2 separate regions of the Homo sapiens genome follow, and region 2 is linked to region 1. The links come from fine-mapping of genetic effects on gene expression. Tissue or cell type: left ventricle. Region 1 holds a variant in brackets; the other region holds the start of a gene. All regions are shown on one strand. Distances are between the middles of the regions.

Region 1 (5,148 bases):
CAGCATAGTCCTCCTTATCTTTTAAAGATACCAATTGGTCATGCCTATAATACCAGCTCTTTGGGAGGCCTAGGCAGGTGAATCACTTGAGGTCAGGAGCTCAAGACTAGCCTGATCAATGTGGTAAAACCCTGTCTTTACTAAAAATACAAAATTAGCCAGGCGTGGTAGCGCACTCCTATAATCCCAGTTAGAGGAAGGAGAACTGCTTGAACCCAGGAAGTGGAGGTTGCAGTGAGCCGAGATTGCGCCATTGCACGCCAGCCTGTGCAACAAGAGAGAAACTCTGTCTCAAAAAAAAAAAAAAAGATACAAATTGAAAAATTGAAATATTTATGAGTCAATTATATGATACCCAGTATTCTTTCTTTCTTTCCCGCTCTCATTTTTTTCTCTTTCTTTTTTTTGAGACGGAGTCTCACTCTGTCACCCAGGCTGGAGTGCAGTGGCGTGATCTCCACTCACTGCAACCTCTGCCTCCCAGGTTCAAGCGATTTTCCTCCCTCAGCCTCCTGAGTAGCTGGGATTACAGGCGCCCGCCACCACGCCCGGCTAATTTTTGTATTTTTAAGTAGAGACGGGGTTTCATCATGTTGGTCAGGCTGGTCTCGAACTCCTGACCTCAGGTGATCTGCCCACCTCGGGCTCCCAAAGTGTTGGGATTACAGGCATGAGCCACTGCGCCCATCTCAGTGCATATTTTCTGGATGAACAAACGTGTACCTCTCCACAATCCCGTCTTTCTCCAAGCCTCAGTTTCCTCCCCTGTGAAACAGGGTGAATCTCTCCTGTGGGAAGTGTGAAGTGGGGGCTTCATATAGACAGCCTCCCCGCTCTCAGCTCAGGCCCGGGTGGAGGGGGTGCCCTCTTTCCAGGATTAATGGTGTCCCTGCCTCTGGGATTCAGATTCTGGCTCCACTGGGCATTCGGATCCTGAATCCCAGAAGGTCTCAGGGCTGAGCCCCGGAGCTCTGAGCTGAGGAGACCCTGAGTTAGGGACTGGGGGCACTCAGCCAGTTTGTGGAGGGGGTCTGAAGTACCAGCTAGGGGGAGGGGTGGGGACCAGGACAGGGTTAGAGCCCCAGACCCCAGGGGTGCCCCAGAGAGGAAAATTGGGGAGGGGGATGGGCTAGGGAGCCTCTCGCCTGCCTCTATCTCTCTGTTTCTTCCCCATTCTCTTTCTAAGTCTCTGTCTCTGTCTTTCTCTGTCTCTAGGTCTCTCTGAGTCTCTTTTTATCTCTGACTACCTCTTTTGATCTCTATTGGTCTCCTTTCTCTTGTTTTCTCTCTGTCTCTTTGAATCTACTTTTATCCCTGTCTTTCTTTCCCTCTCTCTCTCTCTCTAAGTCTCTTTGTCTCTCTCTCTCTCTCTCTTTTTTGGCGGGGGGACAGTCTCCCTCTGTCTCCCAGGCTGGAGTGCAGTGGTGCAATCTCGGTTCACTGCAACCTCTGCCTCCCGGGTTCAAGCGATTCTCCTGCCTCAGCCTCCCGAGTAGCTGGGATCACAGGCGCCCGCCACCACGCCCGGCTAATTCTCCATCTCTCTGAGTCTCCTTTTATCTCTGACTATCTCTTTCTATCTCTGTCTCTGTTGTTCTCTCTCTCTCTAGGTCTGTGTCTCTCTATCTCTCTGAGTCTGTATCTCTGTGGGTCTCCTCTGTCTCTCTGAGTCTCCCTTTATCTCTGACTGTCTCTGTCCATCTCTCTGTGTTTCTGTCTTTGCCACCTTCTGCGTGAGTCTCTCCGTGTCTTTTATCTGTCTGACTCCAGCTCAGCTTCTCTGTGTGGGTCTCTTTCTATCTCTCTTGGTTTCTCTCTTTCTCTCCTCACCTCCTCTGTCTCCCCTTCCCAGGCTCCACTTCTTTCCCCCACCTCTTCCTGGGTCCAGGTGCGGGCCCCCTCCCCGCCTCCACCCTGCCCTCCTCTGGCGGTGTCAGCCCTTCCCGTCCAAGCCAGAAAAAGCAGCCAGGCCAGGGCAGGGCAGCCAGCCAGCCTCTCTGCTGGGGACCCCAGGGACTCCAGCAGGACTCCCGCCTCCCTGGCCTGATCCCCAGGGGCTCTGCCCCCCCCTCCCCGCCGCAGAAGCCCTGCCTCCCTCAGCGCCTCTTCCCTTCCTCTGCCTAGAGGTCCTGTGTTATTGCTGCTGGCACC[T/C]GAGGCTGCAGAAAAAAAAAAGGAAGTCGCAGTCACCGTGGCTCCTACTTGTCCTTCTCTCTGCCCCAAGTCCTCGGAGCATGAAAAACTCCACCTCCGTGTGAGAACAACACAGTGGGTGCTTCATAGTTGTTTGCGGAATAAACAAACACGTATTGAGTGCCTACTGTGTGCCAAACAGTATTTGAGGTACAGGGGACACTGTGGCATTCAAGACAGACAGAAGTCTGCCCTCCTGGAGTTGACATTCCAGAGCAGGAGGCAGATAGGAACAAGCACACATTGTACCATGTTGAGTAGTGCCTGCCTGCAAAAATAAATTCAAAAATTACATACACTTCGGTTGGGACCGGTGGCTCAGGCCTGTACTCCCAGCACTTTGGGAGGCTGAGGCGGGTGGATCACGAGGTCAGGAGATCGAGACAATCCTGGCTAACACAGTGAAACCCCGTCTCTACTAAAAATACAAAAAATTAGCTGGGCGTGGCAGTACGCGTCTGTAGTCCCAGCTACTCGAGAGGCTGAGGCAGGAGAATCGCTTGAATCTGGAAGGCAGAGGTTGCAGTGAGCCAAGATCATCCCAGTGTACTCCAGCCTGGGCGACAGAGCGAGACTCTGTCTCAAAAAAAAAAAAAAAAAAAAAAAAATACATACACCTCGGTTGGGCGCGGTGGTTCAAGCCTGTAATCTCAGCATTTTGGGAGGATGAGGTGGACGAATCACTTGAGGTCAGGAATTTGAGACCAGCCCGGCCAACATGGTGAAACCCCGTCTCTACTAAAAATACAAAAATTAGCCAGGCATGGTGGTGAGTGCCTGTAATCTCAGCTATTCAGGAGGCCGAGGCAGGGGAATCACTTGAACCTGGGAGGCAGAGGTTGCAGTGAGCTGAGATTGTGCCACTGCACTCCAGCCTAGGCAACAAGAGTGAAACTCCATCTCAAAATAAATAAATAAATAGAAATTAAAATAAAAGCCCGGGCGCGATGGCTCATGCCTGTAATCCCAGCACTTTGGGAGGCCGAGGTGGGTGGAACATGAGGTCAGGAGATCGAGACCATCCTGGCCAACATAGAGAAATCTTGTCTCTACTAAAATACAAAAAAAAAAAATATATATTAGCCAGGCATGGTGACACACGGCTGTAGTCCAAGCTACTCAGAAGGCTGAGGCAGGGGAATCATTTGAACCCAGGAGGCAGAGGTTGCAGTGAGCCAAGATCGCGCCACTGCACCCCAGCCTCGTGACGAGCGAGACTGCGTCTCAAAAATAAATAAATAAATAGGTCGGGCACGGTGGCTCACACCTGTAATAATCTCAGCACTTTGGGAGGCCGAGGCAGATGGATCACTTGAGGTCAGGAGTTCGAGGCCAGCCTGGCCAACATGATGAAACCCCGTCTCTACTAAAAATACAAAAATTAGCCGGGGGTGGTAGCACACGCCTGTAGTCCCAGCTACTCGGGAGGCTGAGACAGGAGAACCGCTTGAACCCAGAAGGCAGAGGTTGCAGTAAGCCAAGATCACACAACTGCACTCCAGCCTGGGTGGCAGAGTGAGACTTGGTCTCAGGAAAAAGATCATAAGTAATAAAAATACAAATACAAAAATTAGCCGGGCATGGTGGCAGCTGCCTGTAATCCTAGCTACTCAGGAGGCTGAGGCAGGAGAATCACGTCAACCGGGGAGGTAAAGGCTGCAGTGAGCCGAGATCACACCACTGCACTCCAGCCTGGGCAACAGAGTGAGACCCTGTCTGAAAAAAAAAAATTATACACACCCAGAACCTCAGAATATGAGCTTTTTTGGAAATAGGGTCTTTGCAGATGTAATTGATTCAGGACCTCGAGATGAAATTCATCTGCAGGCTTCATGGTCCTTTGCTGTGTTATCTTGCTTTGAACAACCCGTACACGGGAACTAATTCAATTTTTTGTTTTGAGATGGGGTCTCACTCTGCCACCCAGGCTGGAGTGCAGAGACACAATCATTGCTCACTACAGCCTCGACCTCCTGGGCTGAAGCAATCCTCCCATCTCAGCCTCCCAAGTAGCTGGACTATAGATGTGCGCCACCACACCTGGCTAATTTTTTTATTTTTTTTGTGATGGGGGTCTGACTATGTTGCCCAGGTTGGTCTTTAACTCCTGGCCTCAAGTGATCCTCCCACTTCAGCCTCCCAAAGCACTGGGATTACAGGTAGGAGCCCCCCCCGCCACAACCCAGGCTGCGCTCATTCTTTTTTCTTTTTTTTGAGATGGAGTTTTGCTCTGTTGCCCACACTGGAGTGCAATGGCGCAATCTCGGCTCACCACAACCTCCGCCTTCCGGGTTCAAGCAATTCTCCTGCCTCAGCCTCCCGAGTAGTTGGGATCACAGGCACCCGCTACCACGCCCAGCTAATTTTTGTATTTTTAGTAGATTTGGGGTTTCACCATGTTGGCCAGGCTGGTCTGGAACTCCTGACCTCAGGTGATCCACCCACCTCAGCTTCCCAAAGTGCTGGGATTACAGGCGTGAGCCACCGCACCTGGCCTCATTCTTAACCAGGCCTCGACAATCCTCTTCCCTTCCCTTCTTCAGGACCGAATTTCGAGTCATCATTCCAATCTCAGTGTATGTGTTGCCTCCTCCAGGAAGCCCACCCTGATGTCTCCCCTGGCCCCCACTGGAGGGCGTCTTGTCCCTACTGTTTCCTCGAACCCAGCACATGACCTAGCACACAGCTGGTGCTCAATAAATGTCTGCGGCTTGCATGACAAGGGGCTGCTCTCCCCGATCTGTAAATAGCCCTGGCCTAATGATAAACATAATGAGCTCACACACGGGGACTCATAATTGTGACAGGCAGGTGGGCCCTGGTGGCCACGTGACCCCTCAGCTCCAGCCCGCGCCGGGCTCAGCCCAGCGCCTGCGCCCACGGCAGAGCCACAGCCTCCTCATTAAAGCAGGCCTTTTACTTAGGCAGGCGCTGCCAATTCTAATTGATTGTCTGCGT
Region 2 (5,148 bases), 50 kb after region 1:
GTGGTGGCACGTGGCTGTGGTGTCAGGTACTTGGGAAGTTGAGGCGGGAGGATCACTTGAACCCGGGAGGCAGAGATTGCGGTGAACCAAGATCATGCCACTGCACTCCAGCCTGGGTGACAGAGCGAGACTCCATCTCAAAAAAATAATAAGAATGAAGGAGGCTGGGCATGGAGGCTCACACCTGTAGTCCCAGCACTTTGGGAGGCCGAGGTGTGTGGATTGCATGAGGTCAGGAGTTCAAGATCAGCCAGACCAACATGGTGAAACCCCATGTATACTAAAAATACAAAAAAAAAATTAGCCGGGCGTGGTGGCGTGCACCTGGAGTCCCAGCTACCTGGGAGGCTGAGAAAGGAGAATCGCTTGAACCCAGGAGGCGGAGGTTGCAGTGAGCTGAGATCGTGCCACTGCACTCCAGCCTGGGAGACAGAGCGATATTGTCTCAAAACAAGAAAAAAAAAAAAAGGGGAAGGAAACCCTGACACAGGTCACAGTGTGGATGCATCTTGAGGCAATCCCGCTCAGTGAGAGAGCCAGACACGCAAGGACAAACACTGTGTGACCCACTCCTAGGAAGTCCCTAGAGTCATCAGGTTCACTGAGACAGTAGGATGGGAGGTGCCAGGGGCTGGGGAGGGGGGTGAGGAGTGAGTGTTTCATGGGGACAGAATTTCAGTTTGGGAAGTCGAGAAAGTTCTGGAGATGGTGGTGGTGATGGGTGCACAATTATGTGGATGTTCTTAATGCTAGTGAACTGTGTGTACTTAAAAACAGTTAAGGGCCCACCGGGCACCGTGGCTCACAACTGTAATCCCAGCACTTTGGGAGGCCGAGGCGGGTGGATCACCTGAGGTCAGGAGTTCAAGACCAGCCTGGCCAATATGGTGAAACCTTATCCCTACTAAAAATACAAAAATTGGCCGGGGGCAGTGGCTCATGCCTGTAATCCCAGCACTTTGGGAGGCCGAGGTGGGTGGATCACCTGAGGTCAGGAGTTCAAAACCAGCCTGGCCAATATGGTGAAACCTTATCCCTACTAAAAATACAAAAATTAGCCGGGTATGGTGGCGGGCACTTGTGATCCCAGCTACTTGGGAGGCTGAGACAGGAGAATTGCTTGAACCCGGGAAGCTGAGGTTGCAGTGAGCCGAGATCACGCCATTGCACTCCAGCCTGGGCGACAGAGCAGGACTCTTGTCTCCAAAAAAAAAAAAAAAAAAAAAAAAGAGCACTCACCCCTTGGGGGTGCTGTGAAGATTAAATGAGTTAATTTAAGTACTTATGATAATGCCTGGCACCTAGCAAGTGCTTTATGTTTGCTAGGTGTTTTTTTGTCGTTGTTTTAATTTAAATTAATTTTATTTTTTTTGAGATAGGGTCTCACTCGGTCGCCCAGACTGGAGTACAGTGGACCAATTATAACTCATTGCATTCTTGAACTCCTGGGCTCAAGCAATCATCCTGCTTCAGCCTCACAAGTAGCTGGGACTACAGGCACGTGCCACCATGCCTGGTTAATTTTTTATGTTCTGTAGAGATTATGGGGGCGTGTCTCGCTATGTTGCCCAGGCTGGTCTCAAACTCCTGAGCTCAAGTGATCCTCTTGCCTTGGCCTCACAAAGTGCTTTACAAAATTAATACAAAAATTAACCGGGCGTGGCAGTGCACACCTGTAATCCCAGCTTTTCAGGAGGCTGAGACACGAGAATTGCTTGAACCTGGGAGGTGGAGGTTGCAGTGAGCCGAGATCATACCACTGCATCGCAGCCTGGGTGACAGAGTGAGACTCTGTCCACCTTCCCCTGCGTCCCCCACCCCCGGCAAAAAAAAAAGTCAGGCTTGGTGGTGCACACCTATGGTCCTAGCTACTCGGGAGGTTGAGGTAGGAGGATTGCTTGAGCCTGGAAGTTCAAGGCTGCAGTGAGTGGTGATTGTGCCACCGTACTCCAGCCTGGGCAACAGAGCCAGACCCTGTCTCTTAATGTTTAAAGAAATAGTTTCTAGAATTAAATATTATTCTGATAAAACACAAGATGAAAGACACAGCATGTCATACCCATTAGGATGGCGACTGTCAAAAAACCAAAAGGTGGCCGAGCGTGGTGGCTCACACCTGTAATCCTCGCACTTTGAGAGGGCAAGGCGAGTGGATCACCTGAGGTCAGGAGTTCGAGACCAGCCTGGCCAACATGGTGAAACCCCATCTGTACTAAAAATACAAAAATTAGCTGGGCGTGGTGGCACGTGGCTGTGGTCTCAGGTACTTGGGAAGTTGAGGCGGGAGGATCGCTTGAGCCTGGGAGGCAGAGATTGCTGTGAACCAAGATCATGCCACTGCACTCCAGCCTGGGTGACAGAGCGAGACTCCATCTCAAAAAAATAATAAGAATGAAGGAGGCTGGGCATGGTGGCTCACACCTGTAATCCCAGCAGTTTGGGAGGCCGAGGTGGGTGGATAGCATGAGGTCAGGAGTTCAAAACCAGTTTGACCAACATGGTGAAACGCCATGTGTACTAAAAATACAAAAAAATTTAGCCGGGCATGGTGGCATGCACCTGGAGTCCCAGCTACCTGGGAGGCTGAGAAGAATCGCTTGAACCCGGGAGGGGGAGGTTGCAGTGAGCTGAGATGGCACCACTGCACTCCAGCCTGGGCGACAGAGCAAGACTCTGTCTCAAATAATAATACTACTAATAATAGTTAAATGAAAATGGTTAAGATGACAGCTTTTATGTTATATATATTTTAGCCATTTTTTTTTAAAGGCACAGGGCAGACAGGGCTCTTAGTTAGGTTCTGGGGTAGGGGGCTAGAAAGGCCCGTGGCATGAGGGGAGGGTAGGCCGAAGTGGGGTCTGAGGTCAGGGGCCTTGAATCCCAGGGAGAGGCTGGGGCCTGGACTCAGGGGTCCCTGGGAGCCACAGGAGGCTGTAGAGCAGGGGAGGAGCCAGGGAAGGAAATTCTGAAGGAAACAGGGCCGTGCCCTGAACACACGTGGAATCCGGGTGTTCGCTGAGTCACAAATCCTGGAAGCTCAGGGTCGTGAAGAGGAAGTCCAGCCGCGCTATGCGAGGTCTTCCTGTTTTTGGAGGGGGCAGGCACCCCAGGGCCGATTGTCGCGAATCACCTTCACCTCTGGGGGCTCAGAATCCCTGAGCCAGAAGGCCAGGGCAGGGCTGGGGGATACCCCTGCTGCTCAGACAGGAAAATGGGCTCGGAGCTTGCCCAATACTTCCCAGAAGGACGAGGCTGCTGAACTTCTCATTCGGGGCTCCGGGACCTGGACTGTACCCCTTTCTGGTAGGGGGTGCTCTGAACTGGGACCTTCAGCATGGAGGGCGGGGGTTCAGAGGGTGAATTCCGCTGCTATGTCATTACCTGGATGGGAGAGTGTCTCCACTCCACACACCTAGAAGTTTCTGCAAAGTTACCTTGAATGGGAGTGGGAAGCAGTCCCCCGTGAGAGGTAGTGAGGTGCCTGTCATGGAGGTGTGCAAGCGGAGAATGAAAAGGCTGGATTTGGGAAGGAGGTCAGATCTACCAGGGTCACAGAGGCCCTTGGCATGGGGAATATTCTGTGATTCTGTGGTTATGTAGTACTGTCATTCCCAGCTTGTGGCTTTTTTTTTTTTTTTTTGGATGGAGTCTTGCTCTGTTGCCCAGGCTGGAGTGCAGTGGTGCGATCTTGGCTCACTGCAACCTCCACCTCCTGGGTTCAAGGGATTCTCCTGCCTCAGCTCTCCAGTAGCAGGGATTACGGGCACAGGCCACCATACCTGGCTAATTTTTGTATTTTTTTGTAGAGACAGGGTTTCGCTATGTTAGGCAGGCCGGTCTTGAACTCCTGACCTCAGATGATCCTCCCATCTCGGCCTCCCAAAATGTTGGGATTACAGGCGTGAGCCACCACACACAGCCAGCTTGTGGCTTATAAAATTCCAAGAGCCTTTGACTCTTTTTTTTTTTAGCCTTTGAGTTTAATATTTTTGTGTTTTAATTCTAAGTATTTTTATGCATGTATTTTGCGATTGCATTTTTAAATATATGTTTTAGGATATTTGTATCTATTATTATAATAATTATTATTAGTTTTAAATTACCGAATGCAGTTTTGTTTGAAGTCGTTTCCTGGGCTTTCACGCACACGTGGCCATAAAGTTGTTCTGATAATTAAATCAGTGCTGTGTATTATTATTATTATTGCCATTATTGTTTTTATTAATTATTATCCCCGTGAGGAATTTTTCTGGGATTTGAAGGAGCGTCTGCTGCTCTCGCCCGCCGTCTTGTGGCCACGAGCGGGACTGCAGGCCGCTCACCTCGCCGCCCCTTGCCCGCAGGCGTCACCTCCTCCTGTCGCCTGGCCCTCGCCATGCAGACCCCGCGAGCGTCCCCTCCCCGCCCGGCCCTGCTGCTTCTGCTGCTGCTACTGGGGGGCGCCCACGGCCTCTTTCCTGAGGAGCCGCCGCCGCTTAGCGTGGCCCCCAGGGACTGTGAGTCTGGGGGTGTCTTTGGGCGGGGGTGGAGTCCCGTGGGAGTATCTGGGTTCCCAGTTGGGTCTGCTGCCCCCACTGGGGGACTCAAGCAGTCCAGGAGCCACCCCTAGAAGGGGCATGACCTCAGGCCACCCTCTCTTCACCCCCAGCCCTTGCTCACACCCCTCTCCACCCCCTCACTCAGACCTGAACCACTATCCCGTGTTTGTGGGCAGCGGGCCCGGACGCCTGACCCCCGCAGAAGGTGCTGACGACCTCAACATCCAGCGAGTCCTGCGGGTCAACAGGACGCTGTTCATTGGGGACAGGTATTGCTGGGGACAGCAAGGAGGCCTGTGTGACGAGCAGAATGAGCGAGGGGGAGAGAGAGAGGAGGCGAGGGCAGGGAGGGGATGGAGCAGGTCGTGCAGGGCCTGTTGGGCCATTGGGAGGACTTAGGCTTTGACCCGGAGGAAGGTGGGAGCCACGGAGGGTTTTAGGTAGGGGAAGGACTGGACCTGACTCAGGTGCTCACACGCGCCCGCCCTCTGGTGGCTGCTTCTGGGAGGGGGCGAGAATGGAATCCAGGGGACCAGGGTGGAGGGGACTGGGCTGTCCAGGCTGGCTATGATTGAGGCTGGACCAGGTGGAAGCTGTCGTGGGGAGAAGC

What was found. PIP is the estimated chance that this variant, and not a neighbour inherited with it, causes the effect.
Region 2: it holds the start of SEMA6B, and the variant in region 1 is the best candidate, but not a certain one, in a credible set for the expression of SEMA6B in left ventricle (GTEx, PIP 0.50).

What each region holds. Positions count from the first base shown.
Region 1 is chr19:4,607,230-4,612,377 of GRCh38, reverse strand. No RefSeq gene overlaps it. Among named protein-coding and RNA genes, the nearest start is that of TNFAIP8L1, 30 kb to the left of the region's middle. RefSeq lists enhancers at 4,534-5,091, 5,092-5,148. The variant T/C (reference allele first, on the strand shown) is at 2,152.
Region 2 is chr19:4,557,685-4,562,832 of GRCh38, reverse strand. SEMA6B (semaphorin 6B) reads left to right here and starts at 3,149. Exons shown (of 17, transcript NM_032108.4): 1 at 3,149-3,303; 2 at 4,344-4,496; 3 at 4,684-4,807. The coding sequence starts at 4,376.